7 linked regions of the Homo sapiens genome follow. The protein of the gene in region 7 interacts with the protein of the main gene of each other region in a pairwise test. Each region holds a gene or a part of one and is shown on either strand. Other genes may lie near its edges.

Region 1 (3,500 bases), about 110 Mb from region 7:
AAGTGCTGGGATTATAGGCGTGAGCCACCGCGCCTGGCGAAAGTTGCACTCTTGTAGCTGCCTTGGACCAAGTCTATAAAAGAGCCCACTACCACTCTCCAATTCTATCCAACTAGTAAGAATTCAATGGGAGAAATGGAAGTTGTATCTTTATCTCCATGATTTGTGGGTACTCAGATATGGGTACTGTGGTGTCTTTTTTCCAATGGCACTTCCAACAACAAATGTATAGAGTTTTTTCCACATCAACCACCCATTCTCTGATACCAACCATGTGTCCAACGATTTAATTCAATTCTGACTCTAACACCTAGAGTTAATGCAGAGTCCGCAGGTTAGTCCCACAAGACTGCCCCAACTTGAGATACCAGTTGCAAGTCCCAGGGGCCATCTGTACTTGACACCCCTATCACTCAGGAAATTCCAAGAGTTTTAACACTGTGCCAAGAACCAGGACAAAGACCAAATATATTTTTTATTATACCACAGGTACTATAAAGAATCACACCAAATCTAAGCATTACCTGTTCCTGAACATCCTCAAAGTCTGAATTAAGCAGCTCTATAAAAATGGGGACAGCCCCTGCTTCAATGACAATTTTGGTCTGCTGAGAGGTTCCAGAGGCAATATTCGTTAGAGCCCAGGCAGCTTCAAACTGAAAGTGAGATTAAGCAATGATTGAAAGGTCATTTCAGACTGAGCAGCCATGCCTATCAGCTGGCTCAGAACAGTAAGCCTCCTGCCCATGAATTTAAAAAACCAAAACAAAACCTCACAAAACACAAGCAAGCCTCTTGCCCACGAATTTAAAACACACACACATAAAATACAAGCCTTTCCCCTCCCGTCTTTAGAGAGTGGGAAGATGCAGTGATGTGATATAGATGAGAATAAGACATTGGGCTTCCAGGGTCCCAGGTTTAGTCCTGCACTACCACAACACCCATGCATCCTTTGCCAGGTCACTCTTTTATTTCCTGAGCTTCACTTTCTTCATTTCTGAAATGAGGATTAGAATGAAATGGGTCTCTCAAAGTCCCTTTCAGCTGAGTTCTGGCAAGTTCCAATGGATTGACCCATCACCCATCTCTGAAACAAGAGACCCAGAGAGGCTAAACAATTTGCCTCAGGTCACACAGGTAGTGGACTATAGCCTCTGATTTATAACTGAATGATCAGTCTATCATAGTCTGGTGCCTTTCCTTTGAAATTGTTTTAAGGAAGAGATTCTGGCTGTGAGGGAACTGATGGTTTCTCCTGAATGTTTCCTAACATTACTTTTGAACTTCCTGAGAGATATGTCAATAGAAGTATCCCACTGCAATTTCTTGGAAGTAGGGCTTTCATCTAATAACCCCTTCCCAGTAGTGGGGGACTGGGGGTGGGATGGGGATAAGTAATGGGTACAAAAAAACCCAGAAAGAATTAATAAGACCTACTATTTGGTAACACAATAGGGTGACTATAGTCAATAATAACTACACAATTTAAAATAACTTAAAGTGTATAATTGGATTGTTTGTAACTTAAAGGATAAATGCTTGAGGAAATGGATACCCCATTCTCCATGATTTGCTTATTTCAAATTGCATGCCTGTGTCAAAACATCTCATGTATCCCATAAATATATATACCTACTATGTATCCCCCAAAAATTAAAAGACAAAACAAACCCCTTCCCTTCAGGCCTCACCTGTAATGTACAATTCTCATTCCTCTTCAGAAACTCCACGAACCGATCCACCACTCTTGGAGTGTTGATAACTTCATCTATTGGAGGACTAGGCTCTGGATAAGGGAGAAGGGAAAATAAAAACACAGGAGAAGCTTTTGCTGATCCCTTCATGGGGGTCAGCTTGCAATCCTTCTTAGACACTTCTGACCACCCTTACAAACATTCCCAAACTCCCTTCTGGTAAGGTGGTTTTAACAATATCTACTCGTCTTTGAACTGTATAATACAGCTGGAATGTTAAAGAGTAAAGCCAATCCTAATTTAAGAATGTTCATCTTTGGCTTACTAAATGTAAGCAAAGAAAGGTGTGGGAGAGAGAACCACCTAAGGGATGAACAACCATGGTCTGCACATTTCCCTTTCAAGAAAGACCAGTACTCTCTTCTTGGGAAGACTATTTGATATACTGAAACAAGAGGTATTTTTCCAATCATACATTAAATTTTTTTATTAAGTACCTATGGTGTGCCACACAGTTCTAGGTACAGAGGACACAGGAGGGAACAAAAACAAAAGTCTCTGCCCTCAGAGAGTTTATATCCTAGTGGGAAGAGTCATTTTATTATGTTAGAAGATAAATATAATGGGGGGAGAGGAGGAGAATATGTAGGGCAAGGTAAAAAGATAAAACTGTTGAAGGTGGGATTTAATCATAGGAGTAAGGGAGTTGCTACAAAGATATCTGGGAATAGAGGACATCAGGCAGAGGAAGTATCCAGTGTGAAGGTAGCAATGTGTCTATCTTGTACAAGCAACACCAAGGTCAGTAGGGCTAGAGCAGAATGAGTGAGGGCACGTGTAAGTTGATGACATCAGTGAAGAGAAAAGAGGCTAAATCATATAAGGCCTCTCTGACAAGGGCCAGGCTTTGTACCTTTGGAGAGCAGTTTCCGGAATTTCTGTGTGGTTGCTAACTGCAGGTCAGAATCATCAGAAAAGAGCATCTCCACCATCTCTCTTGTGATCACACTCTCCTAGAACATAAAACAAGTTTAGGACTTTGCAAACCAACATTAGAGCCAGATGTGAGCACATAATACTGCTTGGCATCCTGTTTTCTAAAAAACTGAGGGCAAGAGGATGGCATAATAGGCTCAGGAGAAGGGGTCTGTTTAATCTATAGGTGCTTCAAGTTGGGACATTTGAAAAGTGATTCCTAATTCTGAGGCAACTGATGGCTTCTCTTAAATGTTTCCTCAGATATATCTAACAAAGTTGAATCTTTGTTGACTCCTAAAGCTGACGAAAGGGTCCACAGAGGAAAGAACTTGTCATGGTTACTGGCAAAGCTGGTAGATGATGTGAACGGCCCAATTTCTGTCCTTAGAAGCAGGTGTTTTCCAGGTCAGCCTGAGGCACATGCAGGGGCCTTACCCCAGTGGTAGAGCTCACATAAGAGTCCATGAGAAGACTATCGAACATGGCAGCTTCTTCATTAATCAGCTCCACATTTCTCCGTTTAAAAAGCTGAAAGTAAAGAGACAGTGGTTAAGAGTACTCTCTGAACCAAAGAAAACAAAGAACAATCCAATGTTAAATTATGGCATAACTGACAAGGATATACTAGAGTAGCTGAGAAGTGAGGCCAAGCTTTATACATTAGTCTCCCCTTATTCAGTTTTGCTTTCTATTATTTTAGTTATCCAGTCAACCGTGGTCTGAAAATATTACACAGAAAATTCCAGAAATGAACAATTCATAAGTTTTAAATTGCATGCCATTCTGAGTAGTGTTGAAGTTTCACGCTATCTTGTTCTGTCTGGC
Region 2 (3,500 bases), on a different chromosome or scaffold from region 7:
TCCAAAGGTGATTCTGATTACCAGGTTTTTTTTTTTTTTTTTTTTTTTTTAAGACAGTCTCACTCTGACACCCGGGCTGGAGTGCAGTGGCATAATCTCAGTCCCCTGAGGCTCAGGTTATCCACCTCAGCCTCCTGAGTAGCTGGGACTACAGGCACATGCTACTATGCAGGCTAATTTTTTTTTTTCCGTAGAGATGGGGTTATGTTATGTTGTCCAGGCTGGTCTCTAACTCCTAGGGCTCAAGCTATCTGCCCACTTCAGCCTCCCAAAGTTCTGGGATTACAGGCATGAGCCACTGCACTTGGGCTGATTACCAATTTTTAAACGACTTTCCTTCTTTGGTTATCAAGTAAAATTCTGGTGGCTGTTCCCTCAGTACTTTTTTTTTTGAGACGGAGTCTCGCTCTGTTTCCAGGCTAGAGTACAGTGGTGCGATCTTGGCTCACTGCAACCTCCGTCTCTTGGGTTCAAGTGATTCTCCTGCCTCAGCCTCCCGAGTAGCTGGGACTACAGGCGCGGGCCACCATGCCCAGCTAATTATTTTTTTTTTGTATTTTTAGTAGACACAGGGTTTCACCATGTTGTCCAGGATGGTCTTGATCTCTTGACCTTGTGATCCGCCTGCCTCGTCCTCCCAAAGTGCTGGGATTACAGGCCTGAGCCACCACCATGCCCGGCCTCAGTACTTTTAATTTTTTTTATTTATGTTTTATTTTTTATTTTTGAGATGGAGTCTCACTCTGTCACCCAGGCTGGAGTGCGGTGGGCGATCTCGGCTCACTGCAACCTCTGCTGCCCAGGTTCAACCAATTCTTCTGCCTCGGCCTCCCGAGTAGCTGGGATAACAGGCACCTGCCACTGCACCTGGCTAATTTTTGCATTTTTAGTAGAGATGGGGTTTCACCATCTTGGCCAGGCTGGTCATGAACTCCTGATCTCGTGATCCACCTGCCTCAGCCTCCCAAAGTGCTGGGATTACAGGTGTGAGCCACTGCGCCCCAGCCCTACTTTTAATTTTTTAAAACATTTTTACTAAATTACAATTTGCATTCATCCACTCCTTTCAAATGTAGCTTTTTTGTTTTGTTTTGCTTTTTGGGGACAGTCTCCTCTGTTGCTCAGGCTGAAGTCCGGTGGCGTGATCATAGCTCACTGTAACCTCGAACTATGCTCAAGTAATCTTCCTGCCTCAGCCTCCCAAAGTGCTGGGATTATAGGCGTGTGCCACCACGCCTGGCCTTAAGCGTACAGTTTGATCTGAAAAATGTATATACCCAAACACCATTTTTAAACCTAAGGGTCATCTAAAGCAATTTATTGAACTCTGAGAACAAGTTTAATTTGAGAACATGATCTGAGAAACCAGAAAGGATAATGGTCCCTCCCCTAATGTAAAAAGTGTCTATGAAGGAATACCACTCTGCTTTGCAACTGAACAATAAAAACATACCAATAATTGAGATGATTAGTTTTGTGTTAAAAGGTGGTTAATGGTTTGAACAGGAGATGAATCACAGACCCTAAAGAGCATCTGGGGCCAGGCATGGTGGCTCACGCCTGTAATCCCAGCACTTTGGGAGGCCAAGGTGGGTGGATCACCTGAGGTCAGGAGTTTGAGACCATGAGACCACCCTGTCGGACATGGTGAAACCCCATCTCTACAACATAAGCTGGGCGTGGTGGCATGTGCCTACAGTCCTAGTTACTCTGGAGGTTGAGGCAGGAGAATCGCTTGAACCCTGGGGGCGGAGGTTGTAGTGAGCAAAGAATGAGCCACTGTACCCCAGCCTGGGTGATAGAGTGAGATTCTGTCTCAAAAAAAAAGAAAAAAAGTGTTTGGTTTCAACTAACTTGTATTGTGACCTTGGGCAAATTAGGTTAACTTCAGTTGCCTCAGTTTCCTCACCTGTAAATTGGGGATAATGGTAGTACTTAAAGTATTAGTGTCAGGATTAGGACAGTGCATGGCAAATAGTAAATGCTCAGTAAATCATAGTTATTAGATCTTTGTGCAGTGAATAGATTGTTGCTACCCCTTTGAAAGGCTGTTTCTGGGGCAGCACTTCTCAAACTTTTTGGTTTCAGGACTCCTGTACGGTCTGCAGACCCTGAAAACCTTTTGTTTATATAGGTTATATCTACCAGTGTATATTGTACACAAAATTAAAAATAAGAAATAAATTTTAAAAAGCCTGTTATACAGTAACAAATAATCATTTTTATGAGAAGTGACATTTCCAGAGCAAAAAAACTACTTTTTTTTTTTTGAGATGGAGTCTCACTCTGTCGTCCAGGCTGGACTGCAGTGGCGTGATCTTGGCTCACTGTAAGCTCCGCCTCCCGGGTTCACGCCATTCTCCTGCCTCAGCCTCCCGAGTAGCTGGGACTAGAGGCGCCCGCCAGCGTGCCCGGCTAATTTTTTGTATTTTTAGTGGAGACGGGCTTTCACCATGCTAGCCAGGATGGATTTTTGTATTTTTAGTAGAGACAGAGTTTCACCATGTTAGCCAGGCTGGTCTTGAACTCCCGACCTCAAGTGATCTGCCTGCCTCGGCCTATCTTCTTTTAAACCAGATACTATGGAGACTTGGAAAAATGTTAAATAATGTCCGAGAGCACATTATTCTACATTTTTACATTTTACATTTTTCTGTATCTCCATAGTATTTGGTTTAAAAGAAGATGAGTACTTTCTCATATCTTTCTATATTCAATCTGTTTTGATATATTGTTTTGGTGGAAGCATCTGAAGAAAATCTAACTTCATCAGATATATAGATGGAAAAAGGAGGAGTATTTTGATCACTTTTTCAGTGGATTTTTTTGATATTATACCAAAACTTTACAAGTAGTAGCTTCTCAAAGCTTAGTTATAATGTGGAATTTGAAACCATATCCATGAACTTTTTGTACCCTGTTATATTAAAATCCATGGGTCTTTTTTTTTTTTGAGATGGAGTCTCGCTCTGTCCCCAGGGTGGAGTGCAGTGATGCAATCTTGGCTCACTGCAGCCTCTGCCTCCCGGGTTCAAGCAATTCTCCTGCCTCAGCCTCCTGAGTAGCTGGGACCACAGGCATGTGCTGCCACTCCTGGCTAATTTTTGTATTTTTAGTAGAGACGGGGTTTCACCACATTGGCCAGGATGGTCTCGATCTCCTGAGCTCGTGGTCCGCCCGTGTCGGCCTCCCAAAGTGCTGGGATTACAGGTGTGAGCCACCACACCCAGCCCCATGGGTTTCTTTTATACTTTGAATGATTCTTCTACAAGTGCATGACTTTGTAACAGCACCCATTGGCTATTTGGAAAATGTTCACTGAGTGATGTAGATCTTTAGTGGAAACAATTGACAATTCATTATACAGCATAAAAAATTATATTTGTTAGGGCTGGGCGTGACGGCTCACACCTGTAATCCCAGCACTTTGGGAACCTGAGGCGGGCAGATCATTTGAGGTCAGGAGTTTGAGACCAGCCTGGCCAACATGGTGAAACCCC
Region 3 (3,983 bases), on a different chromosome or scaffold from region 7:
AGTGGGACTTTCATTAGATTATCAAAGGAGATTTTTCCCAAAGAAGAGTCATAAATAGGTATATAAACGATTAAGAACCTTTGCTGGAAGGAGGTAAGTTTCTGAACTATAAAAGTCTAGTCAGCCAGTAACGTGAAACTCAATAACTTACATAAAAACATCTACCACAACTGTCCATGGACACTTCATAGAAGAAAAGTAATACATAACAATACCTTGAGTAATGAACCCTTTGAGAATGAAGCTCCTTTAAAATGAAGTTATCACATTAAAATGAAGTCATTATATTAAAATGAAAACAGAACAATTCATAAATCAGGTGAAGCTGGGTTAGTGTGATCTTTTCCTCCAATTCGCATTACCCAGCTGTCCAGGATACAAATCATCCCTTTACACACCGTTTCTCTATCTTTAAATAAGGAAAGGTAAGAAGGTCACCGATTTACAAAATCCTAAATTTAGTAAGCTTCCTACTTTAAGCCCCTCGCCACTCATTTCCACAGCCATTTCCCCAGGGTAGAGCAACTGCTCCCTCTTTATGAACCTACCTTTCTGTTCCTAGTCTCCTTTATCAACATGGTAGGCAACAGCTTATTGAATATACTTTATAGACTTGTGCATGCACATTTTAGTCACTATTTTTCAGCCAATAAATTACTTCAACTAAACATTTACATTTCTAGACAGAGATAATTTTAGGTACTGTCAAATGGGAGATAACTAGAAAAAGAGAAAGTCATCCTGAAATCACATTATACAAAACACTGGCCAAGAAGGTAAACCCTATTTAATATCCTTTAGACTGACTGGGGGTAGATGGACACACGGAAGCCTAAAAGGGATTTCCCAAGATAAGCCTTTACTTTCCTGAAAAACATGAAGTGAGGACTACTCTGGCTTTAACCGCAAAAAATGTATTCTTGGATTTTGCCACTGGCCAATATAGTAGGTCTGAGCTTCTTTCGGGTTCCAGACCCATCTATCGTAACACAATTCTTCTAGGGATACCTTCTTCCCAGTAACTTTAATGTAAATTCTATGTCTTTCCAGACTTCCTTTAGTCCTTCCAGATGTATATTCCATTTTCCCAGTGCAAGTAATTCTGTTTTACGTAACACTTTATGATATCTTCTCACCTTTCCTTTTTCTGACATTTTGGAAAACATTTCAGTGTCTCTTACATGATTTCTACCTCTGATAATGGAATTTCTGACAACAAAGTTATGTCTCTCTTCAGTACCAGTGAATAAATATTTTGAAGAGTAATACAAGCAGAGCTCGTGAACGAGGTAAGTGATAGGAGACAGAAAAATAAAGGGATTTAAAATTGGGATTATCACAGAATAAAATTACAGCTACTGCTCTACATTCTCACAAAGGGCTTTACTAAGTCTACTATAAAATTCAAAAGCCTTAAAAACAAGACATTAAAAGAAGCCAATCTATTACTTATGTACATTTTAACACCTTACTTTCATTAATGAAAAATACTTTTAAAAATTTAACATTTTCAACTTATAGCACTGATCAAAGGCAAACTAAGGAAAAAAGGAGATACCACTCAGCTTGCAGCATAGATTCAATAATAAAGAAGCTCTCAATATTCCTTTCTAGCTTCCTTCCTTGTCTACAAGTCAGATCTGCGCAATTGAACTTGTGGGAGAGGTTGTGAAAATAGTGTACTCTAGCAGTTTAGGATTTTCAACATCGCTCAATCTCATTGCTGTTAGAGGTCATTAAAACAATGCCTCCCAATAGAATGTCACTGGACCAGAGTGATTTTTGTTTAGAATGAAGCAACTACACTGACTCTAATAACAGTCAATGGCTAAGAGTTTGTGACATAGCACATAATGCTCGATATTATCTAAAAACACGTATCAAAAACAAAAAAGTAAAGATGAGAAAAACAGTTTATGAAACTGCAAAAGATATTAGGGAAATACTTCTCTAAGAGATAGGAGAAAGGTCTGAGAAAGGCAAAGCATCGAGAAAGCTGGGCGGGAGTGGGGAGGAGTAAGGGACAAGTAAAGAGTTCAACGGGACTGCTGTGTTCACACATAAAATTAAAAGGTCTGCAGATAATTCGGGAAAAAAACAGTCTAGCATGGCCATAATTCCAGAGTAAAAGAGAATAACAACTTCAAGATTAACTTGTTACAGTGAGGGAAAAATCTGTAGCCTTCAATAAAGGTGGAGAAATATTTGAAAAGCTGGGGAAATGCCAACAAGGAAAACACGAACTGCTGTCCTGTCTTCCTTATAGTCAGGAGCCGTTTGTATCCTCACCCCAGAGGATCCAATAGGAATCAGTAAGCCTATAACTTTCCAACCCTAAGTCACAACCTAATTCTGATAGGATGAGCTACCACGATACTTCCCACTTCGTTGTGACTAAAAGCATATACTAGTTGGGTATATAAGCAAGGCTCCCCTCCCGCCATTTGATTTAAAAGAATGAAAAGGCGGATCTGGTCATTCGTCTCCGCCCGGGGTCTCTGTAAGGACGGCGGAGAGAGGCGACCTCCGCCCAATACCAGGCGCAGCCTTGCCGTCTCCTCGGGGCTCACCAAGCAGCCACCAGCAAAGAAGCCGGTTTCAAAGGCCCAGCACGACAGGGAGAGGAAAACGGAGCATATGCAACCATACACAGTCACCAGAGTCCAGCCTCCCGCAACCAGTCGCTACAGCCAGGCGCCTGCGCCCAGAAGCGCTTCTCGCGCCGACCGTTTGTATTTGGAATTGTGGGTTCCTGCCCGCCACGCACCACCGCAAGACCTTCAAAGCTGGGAGCTTCTCTGTGCTCCAGGATTCCTCGCTGCCGATTCCACACCGCGTTCAAGACTCCTGTGAAGAGCGACTCCGCTGAGAGCCTCCTCAATGGCCAGTCCACTTCTAACTTGCAGCTGAGAAGTTTTTCTGATCTTGATGGTCAGAGTGGCTCGTGCTACGAAGTGAGAAACAAGGAATCTATAGCGAATCGTAAACAACAGAAATAAAAATGCGTCTCCGTTAAGAGTCGGAGCCTAACGTCACTTCCGGCAACAATAGGAAACGTCAAAATTGGGATAGTCGGCAGTTCTGGCCCCTGCAGCTGGAGGTACCCTGAGTTCTGAGGGTCGTAGTGCTGTTTCTGGTATTCTCATCGCGGTCACCTCTACCGGTGTGGACAAGTAAAGTTTGAATCAGCTTCTCCATGGCCTGGGCACCAGTTCCCGGCTGAGCCATTTTCCTTTTGGCTAAAAGTCCCCGCCCAGAGGCCAATTCGTCGCGGCGGCGGTGGAGATCGCAGGTCGCTCAGGTACAGGAGTCAACCTAGATATTTTAGATCTCTTGTCTCTTTTCCCTGTTCACCTTCACTTTTCTCGAAAATAAAGACAACCAGTGCTTGCCAGTTGGCCGAAACTGGCCGACCAGCAAGAGTTTGCGACCAATGACAGTGCGAAGCATCTTGAGTGACAGTAGTGGTGGCTCATTAAAGTGAGGAATCACTGTCAGGAGGCGGAACTGGGTGTGTTCCTTCTGTTTCTAGGCCATTGGGGTGTAGTTCGGTTTAGGACTCCAAGTAGTAACCCAGCGTCATTGTGAAATAAACCTGAGAAATGACAAGGGTTACTTTCTTCAGGTCCAAGTGTTGGTTTTCGGGTCGAGTGTTATTTTGGTTCCTAGACAGTTTTTGGTTCTTTACCACTTTCCAGTAATATGAATGCAAACACAAGTATAGTTAAGATCACGATGGATTGCTAGCTGCTACAGTAGTCAAACTTGGGTTATAAAACTTGTCAAACTTGTCTTTTATTTGTTTCTCAGCGACTGGGTTCTAATCTCTTACGTAGAAGGTTCTCAATATTTATTTGGCAAAATCACATAAATGGATCCCAATCCTCAGTCATTTAATTTTTTTAGTTTTATTTTTAGGTTCTGTATGAATTTACTAATAAAATAATTGATTCTACTTGTTTTACAAGTAAAATATTCATTTT
Region 4 (3,500 bases), on a different chromosome or scaffold from region 7:
ATTCATGTAATCAAAGTTATTTTATAAAAGCAAACAGTGTATCCCTCAACTAGTTTGTATACTTACGTAGATTTTAATATCTGTTCAAAGATTTTCAGTTCCTGGTATACAGATTTTTAGAAGAAATAAAGATAAAATTTAATTTTACAAGAACACACATTACTTCATCCTCCTTCACAAAATAATCTGTAGTCATTCAAGGTTGATAAGAACTAGTCTTTATGAAAGCAACTGTTGTCTAAAGACTACAGATTAAGTCCTGCAGTCCAAGTTTCTTATGAAAATTCAGTCAGCTGCTGCTCATTGCAGAAAAAGCCTACACGGTGCTTCTACCAAAAATAATCTTCAGTATCTGAGGCCTATAAAGGCAGACGATCGTATCTTCTGCTGAGACTTAAAGTGCAGCTACAAGTGGAGAAGTGCTAGATTCTCAGTCACTTCACAAATACTTGTTGAAGGCTGTTTCTCATGTATAAATATGCTGAAAATGTCCTTCAGGCTCATAATGGTTTATCAATAACTGTGACCCCTGAGCAAAGAAATGAAGAGAGAAAAAAGAAGTCACAGGCAGCACTCTGTATCTCTGAGAAAACACTCAATTCTTCATTATAATACGAAGGCAGGAGGAACTGTACAAATCATGTTTCAGAATCTCTTTCTTAAACTTTAGTAGTATTATCATTTGAATCTAAATGACAGTGAAAACTCTGTTTAGTTATGGGCTAGTTAAATATAAGACTATTTAATCCAGAACTAGTCTTTTCCTCTTTGTAGTTACAATTTGGAAAATATACTCAAAAGGGAACACAGAAACTTTTGAGCATGATGGATATGTTCATTATCTTGATTGTGGTGATGGTTTCATGGGTATATACTCTGTCAAAAGTAATAAAATTATATAGTTTAAATATACAGTTGACCCTTGAACCGACATGGGGGTCAGGGGTGCTGACCCTCCACGCAGTCAAAAACCCATGTATAATTTTTTACTCCCGCATAATTTAATTACTAATAGCTTACAGTTGACCAAACGCCTTACTGATACAGTCAATTAACACATATTTTACATGTAATATATGTTATGTATGTCATAACATGTTATGTGTTATATATTGTATTCTTAAAGTAAGCTACAGAAAAGGAAATGTTATTTAAAAAGTCATAAGGAAGAGGAACTATATTTACTATTCATTAAGGGGAAGTGGATCATCATCAAGGTCTTCATCCTTGTCTCTTCACATTGAGCAGGCTGAGGAGGAGGAGAAAGAGGAGAGGTTGGTCTTGTTGTTTCAGGGGTGGCAGAGGCAGAAGAGGTGGAGGAGGTGGAAGGGAAGGCAGGGGAAACAGGAGAGGCAGACACACTTGGTGCAACTTTAAGGAAATACACTGTTAATTCCTGTCTGACTTTTTTGTTTTTTTCATTTCTCTAAAAATGTTTCCACATAATACCAATCGTCTTTCCACTACTTTCTTCAGTTACAGTGCACATATCATAGAAGGGCCCATTTCATAAAGTAAGTCATAAACAGTCTTGAATAACCAAACCCTTTTGCCAGACTGTCTAATGTCAATTTGTTTTCTGACATTGCTTCTACATCTTCTTCATTGTCTGGCAGTGGTTAAGAAGCACTCATCTCCGTCGAGTCATGTTCTGTTAATTTCTCTGGTTTGGTATCTATTAGCTCTTGAATTTCTCCAAGATCCATACCTTGAAACCCTTCACCATCAACCTTTATAGCCACATCCATGATCTCTTTCATGATTTCTTTGACTGGCTCTGTCATAACTCCTGTGAAGTCATACACAACATCTGAACACAGTTTTTTTCCAGCAGGAATTTATTGTTTTGGGTTTGATGACTTTCATAGCTTTTTCTATAACAATGATATATTCAATGGTGTAATCCATCCAGACTTTCATGTTTTCTCTGTTGAGATTCTCTTCCATAGCACTGGCAATTTTTTCCATAGAGTGCCATGTATAATGAAACTTTAAGGTTCCTATGGTCACTGATCTAGAGGCTGAATTAGATACATTGTGTTTAGGGGCAAGTAGACCACTTCTATGCCTTTGGTGTTGAACTCATGGGGTTCTGGGTGGCCAAGGGCACTGTCCAATATCAAAATAAAAAGCAGTCCCTTACTGGCATGGTACTTCCTGAACCTGAAGCATAGATGGAACCAGTCCGGGAAAAGATTTCTTGTCTAGGCCTTCTTGTTATACAGTCAAAAGACTGGCAGCTGGTATTTATATTTTCCCTTCAAGGATTGGGGGTTAGCAACTTTTTAGATAAGAGCAGTCCAAATCATAAACCCAACTGCATTTGCACAAAATAGTAGAGTTAGCTTATCCCTTTCTGCCTTAAATTCTGGTGCTTGCTTATCTTCCTAATAAATGTCCCTGGTGGCACATTTGTCTGCATTAAAAACTTGTTCAGGCAGATATCCATTCTCCTCAACAACTTTCTTCATGGCATCTGGGAGCTCATCTGCTGGCCCCTTGGTTGACAGAAGTGTTCTCCTGTTATCTTGACATTTTTTGAGCCAAACCCCTTTCCAAAATTATCAAGTCATCCTTTGCTTGAGTAGGCTGAGGAAATTCTCCAGCTTTAGATCCTTCACCTTCCTTTTGCTTCAGGTTGTCACATAATGACTTTCCTTTTTCTCAAATCATATTAGAGTTGACAGGTATGCCTTTCTTACAGCAATCCTGCACCCACCAAAAACCAAAACCAAAAAGTCAAAAATAATAAAAATAATAAAAATTTAAAAATTAGCCAGGTGTGGTGGCACATCCCTGTAATCCCAGCTACTCAGGAAGCTGAGGCATGAGAATCGTTTGAATCTGGGAGGCGGAGGTTGCAGTGATCTGAGATCACGCTGTTGCACTCCAGCCTGGGCGACAAGAGTGAGATTCTGTCTCAAAAACAAAAATCCTGCACCCACATAAAAGCTGCATGTTCAACACAAGATAAAAAGGGATTTCACAAAAAGTGTGAAGTTTTCAAAACTGCTGGGATGGCTGCAGGGACGGCTTCATGAATTTCCTTTTTCCTTTTTACAATGATCCCTACCCTGGATTCATTTATTTTGAAATGGTGGGCAAGTGCAGCAGCAGACCTCAATCCATGGTATATCTCAAGCAATTCAGCTTTTTCTTGTAATGTCATGACTCTTCTCTGCTTCGTTGAAGCACTTCCTAGCACCATCACCGGTGGCACTTTGTATGGGTCCCATGGTATTATTCAAGGTTTATGATATTGCAGTAAACATGATGAAAAATAAGGCAGAACCATGAGAGAGAACTTTTTACTGAGATACGCATCGCTGAAGAGACAAACTGCTCTTTCAAAGGTAATTAGCCCCCCACAGCTTTTTAAGTGGATACTCACAACAGCTGAGCTCACCAATACAGCAACAGGAGACGGCTATAAAATTATTATAGTAGTACAGTAACATACTACAGTTAATTTCATGCAGTTATGATTTAATATTGTATCT
Region 5 (2,330 bases), 140 kb from region 7:
ACTCTCAGGAACAGTCCTGTTCTGGGTCTCTGAAGGGATAAAACTTTGACCCTTCCACCCCTCAGATGTGGAGCGTTATTCAGACAAATATCAGATGTCAGGTCCGATTGACAATGCCATCGATTGGAACCCTGGTAGGTGATGGGCCCTTTCATTGACTGCCCTTCTTTCAAATGCATGGGATGCTTCAAGCTATTCCCACCACGCCCATGACCCCACCCCATTCCCCGATCCAGCATCTGCAAGCTAGAGCCTTAGTTATGGTCCAACACATTCTCAGATTCTACCTGAAAAAGCTATTAAATAGTTCCCACTACTCAGGAGATATCCAAGCCACTGAACAACTTTGGCCCAGCCCCTTCCTTCCTCTCCTTTAAAACCCTCACCCCCCTTTAAAACCAGTCAGTATTCACTGGAGACCCCAGGCAGGGTCCTATTGACATTTACGTTCCCACTATTCCCAGATTGGCGGCGTCTACCCCGGGAGCTAAAGATCCGAGTGCGGAAGCTACAGAAGGAACGTGAGTGTATCTGGAAAAAAGGAGGGAGAAGAGAGGTTTCCTTCATCAGCCTGAGGGCCGAGGCTGCTGCTGGTCTCACCTTCCATCCCAGTTCCTATACCCAATCTACCAAGTGTTGTTGCTAGATGTCATAGTGGCCACATGAGGGCAGCAGAGTGACATGTTCTTTGCATGAGGATGGGCTATAAAGCTGGCAAAATTTGCTCTCTGAAGGTTTACCTTTTGATCCCTCCACCAGGGATTACAATTCTGCTCCCCAAGAGGCCCCCTAAGACCACAGAAGATAAGGAGGAAACAATACAGAAACTAGAGGTGAGGAGGAAGTGTGCATAGAGACCTCCTGAGCCCTGGATCCATTCCCTCTCTCTTGGCCCATGTGTGCCTCAATTTTTCCCTTCTGTGAACTGAACCTGAGTTTCTATTCCTATTCATCCCCACATGAGACCCTGGAGAAGAAGGAAGAAGAAGTAACTTCAGAGGAGGATGAGGAGAAAGAAGAAGAAGAAGAGAAGGAAGAGGAGGAAGAAGAAGAGTATGATGAAGAAGAACATGAAGAGGTGAAGGGGACTCCTTCCACCTTAGTCCCCCTCCCTTTACCCTCTTTATACTAGGGTTGCTCTCCTCAGAGGGTTGGCATGCCAACAGAGATAGTGCCCCCCAGGGTAGGGGCTTCTCTCTACTTCATCTGCCCCCCTTCTACAAACTACAGCTGGAAGAGATGTCTCAGGCCTGGAATGGTGTGACTGAGAGGAAAGGGGTCTGGTACACAGGAAGGAAGGTGAATGCCAAATTGACTTTTACTTTTTTTTTTTCCATTTCAGGAAACTGATTACATCATGTCATATTTTGACAATGGAGAGGACTTTGGTGGTGACAGTGATGACAATATGGACGAGGCTATATACTGAAGAAGGACTCTGGACCCTCGTGTCTTTCTTTAGGATACAGAGAGTAACTGTACCTATTATTTGTTTCTTCAGACAAGCAAATCATTTGGTCAGAGTTCATATAATCTGTCTGTTCCCTGGAGATGGGAATAGAGGATGATGACAGTTTATTTTCTACACTTCCCCTCCTTCCACATTTGTATCACCTTTGCTATCTTGGGGAAAGTGCAAAGGACAAACATCTCAATTGTATGAAGGGAGAAAGGAGAATTGAAAGAAGAACTGGGGTTGTTAGAGCTGAGATGACTGTACACATACCCCTGCCCAATTTATATAGCTCTTTGTGGAGATAATTAGGGGTGGGAGCAGTTTGAAGGAGTAAGCCTGGTTTTATACTTTTAAATAAAGTGTTTTTATCTGTCTCTCTGTTGTGGGTGAGGCCTGGTGACAGAGGGCTGGAGGAATGAAGGAAATGCTTAACTAAGCCGGGTCTGGTGTGACACACTGGAGGGTTACAGCCCTACAGCCCGCTTGTCCTTTGTCCCTTCCCTTCTACCCCCATGGTGGGACACATATTCACAATCGAGCCCAGCCAAGGAATATTCAAGGCCTCATCTGTAGGGCAATGCAAAGTAAATTGTAGAGAACAGCCTACGCCCCCTGCAGTACAGCTGACTTCTGAGCCTCTGGTCCTCAGGCCACAAGGACATGATTGTGTCTGTTCACACATGTTCACAAGGACATAGGTCCTGTCTTTCCCACACTTGACCTTGATCTTGTCCTTATTTACAAAAAATGATTACAGCTATTTTTGTGGGGAAAGGCAAGAAAACCAGGTATGAGGAGGGAGGAGGAGCTGACTTATTCACCATACTCCCTCCTCTTCCAGACTCTGGAGATGCCACTTTGAAAGGTATGTCTG
Region 6 (3,500 bases), on a different chromosome or scaffold from region 7:
CAAACAAGTCATTACAAAAGTCCATTAAGTATCAGATTTTGGATATTTGTTTAACATCAAAAGCCAAGAATAAATAAGTCACAAACAAATCAAGTCACAATGGGAAAAAAAGTGAACAAAATCTACTGTTTTCTTAGGGACAAATGATGATGATGATGGTGATGGTGATGATGAAGAAAAATCATATAACTTCTTTGTTAGGAGAAAATAATGTGAAAAATAAGAGAAAATTAAATCAAAAGTAGAGCTAAGTATTTGCAACACATATGCATAAAGATTATCATTGTCACTGATAATAAATGCATTGCAATTAAAGTAATAATCCAACGTACAGGGATTGTTTTAACAAGATGGTTGAAAGGAAAAGCCCTATAAAGGCGTCTCTGGCAGCAGGTGTTATACATAAAACCTTCGGCACAGAAACAATAGGTAATGAAATCTGGAAGTTTACTGACTGTGCCAAACAGTATCCAAATATAATTTCAACTGTTGTAAGTTTGTAAGTGGTTGTACATTTTGTATTACTATAAAAAGTTTACAACCATCAATCTTTCATGGCACACCTGTAGCCCATTCTGCCATGGCCTCTAGTGGGGAGCTCAGCTTTAGAGAGCAATGAAAGGCAGAAGAGGATTGAGTGGTAATATGCATACTACAAACAATATTTGATGATATCCAAGTTTTCTAGGAAGGCCTATGGCACAGTATGAAAAACCCTGGGGAAGTATAGGGTTTAAGCAGATGAAAGAAGAAGGGCACTTCAAGTAAGCCGGCTAGAATTAGCAAAATACTGAGGGGAAGAGAGAAAAGAAGGATAGATTACTGTTAACAGTGGGCGAGACAGTGTTAAGCTTTGGATATATAATTTTTTTTTTTGGAAAGTGGCCAGAGCAGACTGTATAGGAAATTTGTGTTGGTAAAGAGTAGCGGAAAATTTTTAGTTTAGAATTATAGGTACAAATCATAGAAAACCTTGAAAGTCAGGATATGATTGTCATTTTGTGAGCAGTGCTCTCTGACTATAAAAAGCAACTTGGAAGATAGATCTGGACACACTGAACAGGACAGGCCAGAGAATGACCTGAGACAGGGAGACTAGTCAGGAGGCTGCACAATAGGTGATAAGGGGCTGAGCCAGAGACACAGGAGTAGAAATAGAAAGGGATTAATTGAAGACACATTTCAAAGGAAATAGTGGGATTTAGTGAGATTCAGCAGACTGAAGAAAATGGATGACTCTCAGACTTTGAGGCCAAAGGACTGAGAGATTAGTGGTATCATGTTCAGAGAAGAACCTGGGAGAGAGATTTAGTTGGGAGATGGACAATGGATTCTAGTGAAGTGTCCTGGAGGCAATGGGAAGTATGAAATAGAAGCACAAGGCGAGAGGTCAAAGATGGGAAAACAAGTGCAATCCACACAGTTTTGTCGTAGATAAAGCCGTGAAGAGGCTGCGAGCTCTCCAAGAAGAGCAACAGAAAGAATGCTGAAGACCTGAGTTGGGGGAAGATTGCTAACTCTTCCTCAGAGCAAGGAAGGAGGAAGAGGAATTATGGAAGGAGGCAAAGGAGCAATGCTGAGGAAAATAGACACACAAGAATGGCGTATGCTATCAAAGGAAGAGAAAGTCTCAAGAAGGAAAGAATTGTCATGTCTAGCAGGCCACCTCCCATGTCAGACTATGTGTATTCAAATCCTGCCTCTGTCACTTATTATATGTCATTGCAAAAGTTCTGTTATCTTTTCTAGTTTCATTATCTGTGAAATAATGCTAATATATTCTACCCCATAGGGATATTTTGAGGATTACTTGAGAAAAATGTATGGTCCTGTACTTAGCACAGTACTGGTCCTGTTATGAGTGCACCTGGCACTTACAATAAATTAATAGATATAATTGATAACTTTTAAGGGAAAAATAGAATGATGAGAAGAGAAAAAAAAACTGCAAGAGGTTAAAGAAGGACCAACCCCTGAGAAAGACAATGGGTATGGAAAACTTACAAGAGATTCCTTGCCCCAAAATGAAAAGAGCTTGCAGACCAATTGTTAGAAACAGCAATGGGATGAAGTAAAGGCTTTACTTAAGTTTGCTCTATACTGACTAAGGGTTAACATTGTTACTGTTGTCATGGAAGCTTCCTTAATTAGGATTGGGGCATCTTTTCGTTTACACGAGATTATCTGAGACTCCAGGAGAGAAATTAAACAATTGCACAACCAAAAGATCCTGTCAAAATACATGGACACAGAAAATGGTGCAGCCGCTGTGGAAAACAGTGTGGCAGTTCCTCAAAAAATTAAAATACAATTACCATATGATCCATCCATTCCACTTCTGGGTATATATACCCAACACAATTTAAAGCAAGGACTTGAACACATATTTGTATACCTATGTTCATAGCAGCATTATTCACAATAGCTAAAATGTGGAAATGATCCGACTGTCCATTGACCTATGAATGGATAAAATTGTGGTACATCTAGCAAAATAGTATTCAGCCTTAAGAACAAGGAAATTCTCAGCTTGGGGCCAGTGGTGCAATGGGTAACACATCTGACTATGGATCCAAAAAAAAGGAAATTCTGACACATGCTACCACATGAATGAACCTGAAGACATTGTGCTAAGCGAAATAAACCACACACAAAGGGACAAATATTATATGCCATATGATTTTATATGATAGTCAAATTCATGAAGATAGAAGAATGGTGGTTGCCAGGAGCTGTGGGGAAGGAGAATAGGGAGTTAGTACTTAATGGGTACAGAGTTTCAGCTAGTGAAGATGAAAAAGTTCTGGAGATGGCTGGTGGTGATTGTGGCACAACAATGTGAATGTACTTAATGACACTGAACTGTACATTTAAAATGGTAAATTGTATGTATTTTTAACACAGTAAAAGAATATATATATGTGCAGACAACATGAGCAAATAAGGCACTGCTCTTTGATAGATAAAATGGGTTGAAAAGTCATCAGAAACAACTTATAAGAGTAACTTTTTAAATGATGAAATATTTCATACTGACAAAATTAAATACATGATGTAAGTAGAAGTATAAAAATAATGAAACAAGCATCTAGACAGCAACCATCCAGCTTAAAACATAGAGCATTACTAATAGTACTGAGACCCTTGTTGTATTTCCCTAATAACATCCCTCTCCATCCTCTCCCTCCTCCACCAGGGGTAACCACCATTCTGAATTTGTATTTATCATTCCTTACTCTTTATTATAATATTATAACATATATATGTCACCAGAAACAATATATTGCTTTTCCACCTAGCATGGTGAGACTCCTCCATGGTGATGTCTGTGGCATACTCATTGAGAATTGTTGTTATTGTCTTAACAATTGAAGCTTTTTATCATTTTATCAAAAACAATTGAAGCTTTCGTCACTCTTTTTTCCTAATAGTGCATTTTGCCTTAAAGTATCTTTTGTCTGGCATGAGTATGTCTACCTTAACTTTTATTGGTTATTCTT
Region 7 (3,500 bases):
TCTGTTAAGTGAGCTGGAGGAGACAGTGAGTTTAGGTTTGCTCATGCTAAGCTGGAGGGTTACAGGAGGTCAAAATGGATTTTCTGGATGGTATTCTGAAATGCAGGTCTGAAGTTTATGATGCTTACTTGTTGACATTACGTTTCAGGGTCTCTAGCTGCTGACGTTCAGGAGCTGTGATCATCTCCTCTATTTCTTGTAACTGTGCTTCCTCTGCACCAGTAGCCTGCATAGATGCAATGATGGCTTCTACCCTCTGAGATTTTTCTAGTAGACGCCTGTCAAACAAACACAACTCTGAGACATCTTCCCTAACCTGGGAGATTCTCTTACCACGTGTGTCTGAGGCACTACCCACCACCCTTTACCATTTTCCTGATCAAAGTAGATAATGTCACCTTCTAAGGACATTTTCTACAAACTTATTTGGAAATATAACTTCACTCCTGAAATTCTTATTGCCTCTCATTTGCACTTAAAAGTTTGGTGCTTTTGTACGTTTCTCACAAATTTAATCTGAAAAATTATTTCACTGGGAGCATGTTAGAAAAGTGTAGACTAATGCATGATTTACACTAATCTAAGCCAATGATTCAATGCAAGTAGACTGGTTGCTATCTCTACTGGTTCCTACTTCTCAAAAAAAAAATTTTTTTTTTTGAGATGGAGTCTCACTTTGTCGCCCAGGCTGGAGTGCAGTGGCGTGATCTTGGTTCACTGCAACCTCCACTCACTGGGTTTAAGTGATTCTCCTGCCTTAGCCTCCCGAGTAGCTGGGACTATAGGTGCCCGCCACCATGCCCAGCTAATTTTTGTATTTTTAGTGAAGACAGGGTTTCACCATGTTGGCCAGGTTGGTCTCAAACTCCTGACCTCAAGTGATCCACCTGCCTCAGCCTCCCGAAGTGCTGGGATTACAGGCATGAGCCACCCTGCCAGGCCCAGCGTCTATTGATTCCTATTTCTAGAGGAAATTTCCCCTGAGGCCCTTGATCTTGAAAGATGTAAATAACTCAACTGAAAATGTTACTTACTTATTCTCTTTGGTTTCAAATTGCCTCCTTTCTATCAAGTTGGCTATGCTCTGAGGAAAGAGAAGACAGACAAGGAATGCACATAGTTCTATTTCAGCAGCTCAGGGCGAAGTGGGCACATGAGGGGTACTTGACCGTATGGAGGAAATGGGGAGAAGGTCCAGATTGAGTTACCTTGTAGCACCTGTGCAACAACATTCGGGCAGCTGACAGGATGTTCACAGTATATAAATAGAAGGTCCTGGATGGGGCATGGTCTGGTGTTTTGGGAATTTCCTATTTGTCCAATAGAAAGAAAAATAGCAGAAATTATACTGTTTTAGAACTGGCAAAGCACACACTCATTCTACCTGGAGTTACTTAGCCCTCCTTTTTACTTACACTTTCCTGTTTCCTAGTCATTCAGTACCTGTGTTTATTTTATTTATTTATTTTGAGACTGGGTCTTGCTCTGTTACCTAGGATGGAGTGCGGTGGCATGATATCAGCTCACTGCAACTTCCACCTCCGGCTCAAGCAATCCTCCCACCTCAGTCCCCCAAGTAGCCGGAACTACAGGCATGCACCACCATGCTCCGCTAATTTTTTAATCTTTTGGGGGTGGTGGAGACATGGTCTCACTATATTTTCCAGGCTGGTCTTGAATTCCTGGGCTCAAGTGATCATCCCGCCTTGGTTTCCCAAAGTGCTGAGAATACAGGTGTGCCCGGCCCAGTCTTTGTGGTTTATGTCATAATCAGTCAAATGGAGAGCTGGGCTTCCCTGTTTTTTCCATTTGACTGTCAGCATCCTGAGCTGGGGAAGAAAGGGAGGGCAACTAACATTTACTGAACAACTCTATGTGCCAGGTAAATTCTATTTGATCTTTACAAAAAGTCGTATTATTATTATTTTTGAGACAGAGTCTTGCTCTGTTGCCCAGGCTGGAGTGCAGTGGCACAATGTTGGCTCACTGCAACCTCTGCCTCCCAGGTTCAAGCAATTCTCCTTCCTCAGCCTCCTGAGTAGCTGGGATTACAGACACACGGCACCACGCCCAGCTAATTTTTGTATTTTTAGTAGAGACAGGGTTTCACCAGGTTGGCCAGGCTATTCTCGAATTCCTGACCTCAAGTGATCCGTCCGCCTAGGCCTCCCAAAGTGCTGGGATTACAGGCATGAGCCACCGCACCTGGCAACCATATTATTTTTATTATCACCATCCATCACTGTTTTATAGATGGGAAACGTGGTAACTTGCTTAATGTAACTGGGTAAGGCAGAGCTGTAATCTGACTCCAAAAATCCATTCTATCTATTTACTCATATGCTCTACTAAATAGCCCTGCAAAGACTCAGTTAGATGTGTTGATAAATTTAAACTATAACAGAATTAAGGCTTAAGGAAGGACAGAAATGAGAAGAGAAAAAAAGGCAGGGTGGGTTTGGGGTGATGTCCTGGCTCTGCCTCTTTTTTGTTTTTTGTTTTTTTTGTTTTTTGAGACAGAGTCTCACTCTGTTGCTCAGGCTAGAGTGCAGTGGCTTGATCTCGGCTCACTGCAACCTCCCCCTCCTGGGTTCAAGAGAGTCTCCTTCCTGCCTCAGCCTCCCGAGCAGCTGGGACTATAGGCGTGTGCCACCAGGCCCAGCTAATTGTTTTGTATTTTATTAGAGACGGAGTTTCACCATGTTGGCCAGGCTGGTCTCGAACTCCTGACCTCAAGTGATTTGCCCACCTTGGCCTCCCAAAGTGCTGGGACTACAGGCGCGAACCACCGTGCCCGGCCACCTCTTTCTCACTAGGGCAGTTAAGGCCCCAAATTATCCTCCAAGTGCTCGCTATGTCTCTGTGAATCATGTTTTTCTGTCTCAGAGCTGGATATAGAGTTTGCTTGGGGGTTCAGTATGTTTGCCTAAGAAGCTTCTCTCACCCTAGGCCAGCTTTGCTGGTTGGCAATTATTACGCCCTTGGTTGGTTACCTGGAGTGACATGAAATTTTCTGAGAGCATCTTATATAGCATATCCTTTGCCTCCTTTGCAGGAATCATTGCAAAGTCTTCCACTTGCTTCTGCTCTATGTGTTTCTTCTGCAAAACTAGACGGAATATTCTAGCACAGCGAGACCCAAATCTGGAAAGGAATGAAGAAAGCAAATGGCATGCTAACATAGATCAGCTTTAGTTCCCAGTCATAGATGGGGTGGTTGTTCTATTCCATGTGTGAAGCCAGTACCAGACAGGAACAGTGATCAGAAAATTATTCTACAGCTCCATAGGTTGGTGATGGTAAGGCATCACCAACTGCTGTTAATCATAAGGCAGTCACCAACTGCTGACTCATTTGAGTGCCACAGTTCCTACATTTGTAAGCAAAGGCTTTAGGGAGGCTGGTTAATTTGCATCGGTAGGAATTAAACAGTAGGTTATTTTAAGGTAAAGAGCAGTATTACATGAGATCCATAGGAGTCCAGTGAAAAAATGGGGAAA

The links.
Region 1: the proteins of POLR3C (region 7) and KPNA6 interact in binary tests that used the Homo sapiens proteins (3 or more experiments, as listed by UniProt).
Region 2: the proteins of POLR3C (region 7) and VRTN interact in binary tests that used the Homo sapiens proteins (3 or more experiments, as listed by UniProt).
Region 3: the proteins of POLR3C (region 7) and CEP44 interact in binary tests that used the Homo sapiens proteins (3 or more experiments, as listed by UniProt).
Region 4: the proteins of POLR3C (region 7) and KLHL2 interact in binary tests that used the Homo sapiens proteins (3 or more experiments, as listed by UniProt).
Region 5: the proteins of POLR3C (region 7) and POLR3GL interact in binary tests that used the Homo sapiens proteins (3 or more experiments, as listed by UniProt).
Region 6: the proteins of POLR3C (region 7) and ROPN1 interact in binary tests that used the Homo sapiens proteins (3 or more experiments, as listed by UniProt).

The regions. Positions count from the first base shown.
Region 1 is NC_000001.11:32,156,556-32,160,055, reverse strand, and holds part of KPNA6 (importin subunit alpha-7), read right to left. Parts: intron 3,204-3,500; coding exon 3,111-3,203; intron 2,711-3,110; coding exon 2,611-2,710; intron 1,790-2,610; coding exon 1,695-1,789; intron 657-1,694; coding exon 525-656; intron 1-524. UniProt on the Homo sapiens protein: Functions in nuclear protein import as an adapter protein for nuclear receptor KPNB1. Binds specifically and directly to substrates containing either a simple or bipartite NLS motif.
Region 2 is NC_000014.9:74,351,471-74,354,970, forward strand, and holds part of VRTN (vertnin), read left to right. Parts: intron 1-3,500. UniProt on the Homo sapiens protein: Acts as a transcription factor that regulates development of thoracic vertebrae.
Region 3 is NC_000004.12:174,282,728-174,286,710, reverse strand, and holds the start of CEP44 (centrosomal protein of 44 kDa), read right to left. Parts: upstream 2,801-3,983; 5' UTR 2,768-2,800; exon of another isoform or gene 2,571-2,767; intron 1-2,570. UniProt on the Homo sapiens protein: Centriole-enriched microtubule-binding protein involved in centriole biogenesis. In collaboration with CEP295 and POC1B, is required for the centriole-to-centrosome conversion by ensuring the formation of bona fide centriole wall.
Region 4 is NC_000004.12:165,319,061-165,322,560, reverse strand, and holds part of KLHL2 (kelch-like protein 2), read right to left. Parts: intron 1,250-3,500; coding exon of another isoform or gene 1,236-1,249; exon of another isoform or gene 1,210-1,235; intron 530-1,209; coding exon 501-529; 3' UTR 1-500. UniProt on the Homo sapiens protein: Substrate-specific adapter of a BCR (BTB-CUL3-RBX1) E3 ubiquitin ligase complex that mediates the ubiquitination of target proteins, such as NPTXR, WNK1, WNK3 and WNK4, leading most often to their proteasomal degradation.
Region 5 is NC_000001.11:145,977,019-145,979,348, forward strand, and holds the end of POLR3GL (DNA-directed RNA polymerase III subunit RPC7-like), read left to right. Parts: intron 1-65; coding exon 66-134; intron 135-464; coding exon 465-521; intron 522-759; coding exon 760-833; intron 834-964; coding exon 965-1,078; intron 1,079-1,342; coding exon 1,343-1,429; 3' UTR 1,430-1,830; downstream 1,831-2,330. UniProt on the Homo sapiens protein: DNA-dependent RNA polymerase catalyzes the transcription of DNA into RNA using the four ribonucleoside triphosphates as substrates. Specific peripheric component of RNA polymerase III which synthesizes small RNAs, such as 5S rRNA and tRNAs.
Region 6 is NC_000003.12:123,982,125-123,985,624, reverse strand, and holds part of ROPN1 (ropporin-1A), read left to right. Parts: intron 1-3,500. UniProt on the Homo sapiens protein: Important for male fertility. With ROPN1L, involved in fibrous sheath integrity and sperm motility, plays a role in PKA-dependent signaling processes required for spermatozoa capacitation.
Region 7 is NC_000001.11:145,837,700-145,841,199, reverse strand, and holds part of POLR3C (DNA-directed RNA polymerase III subunit RPC3), read right to left. Parts: intron 3,145-3,500; coding exon 2,994-3,144; intron 1,311-2,993; coding exon 1,209-1,310; intron 1,085-1,208; coding exon 1,035-1,084; intron 279-1,034; coding exon 129-278; intron 1-128. UniProt on the Homo sapiens protein: DNA-dependent RNA polymerase catalyzes the transcription of DNA into RNA using the four ribonucleoside triphosphates as substrates.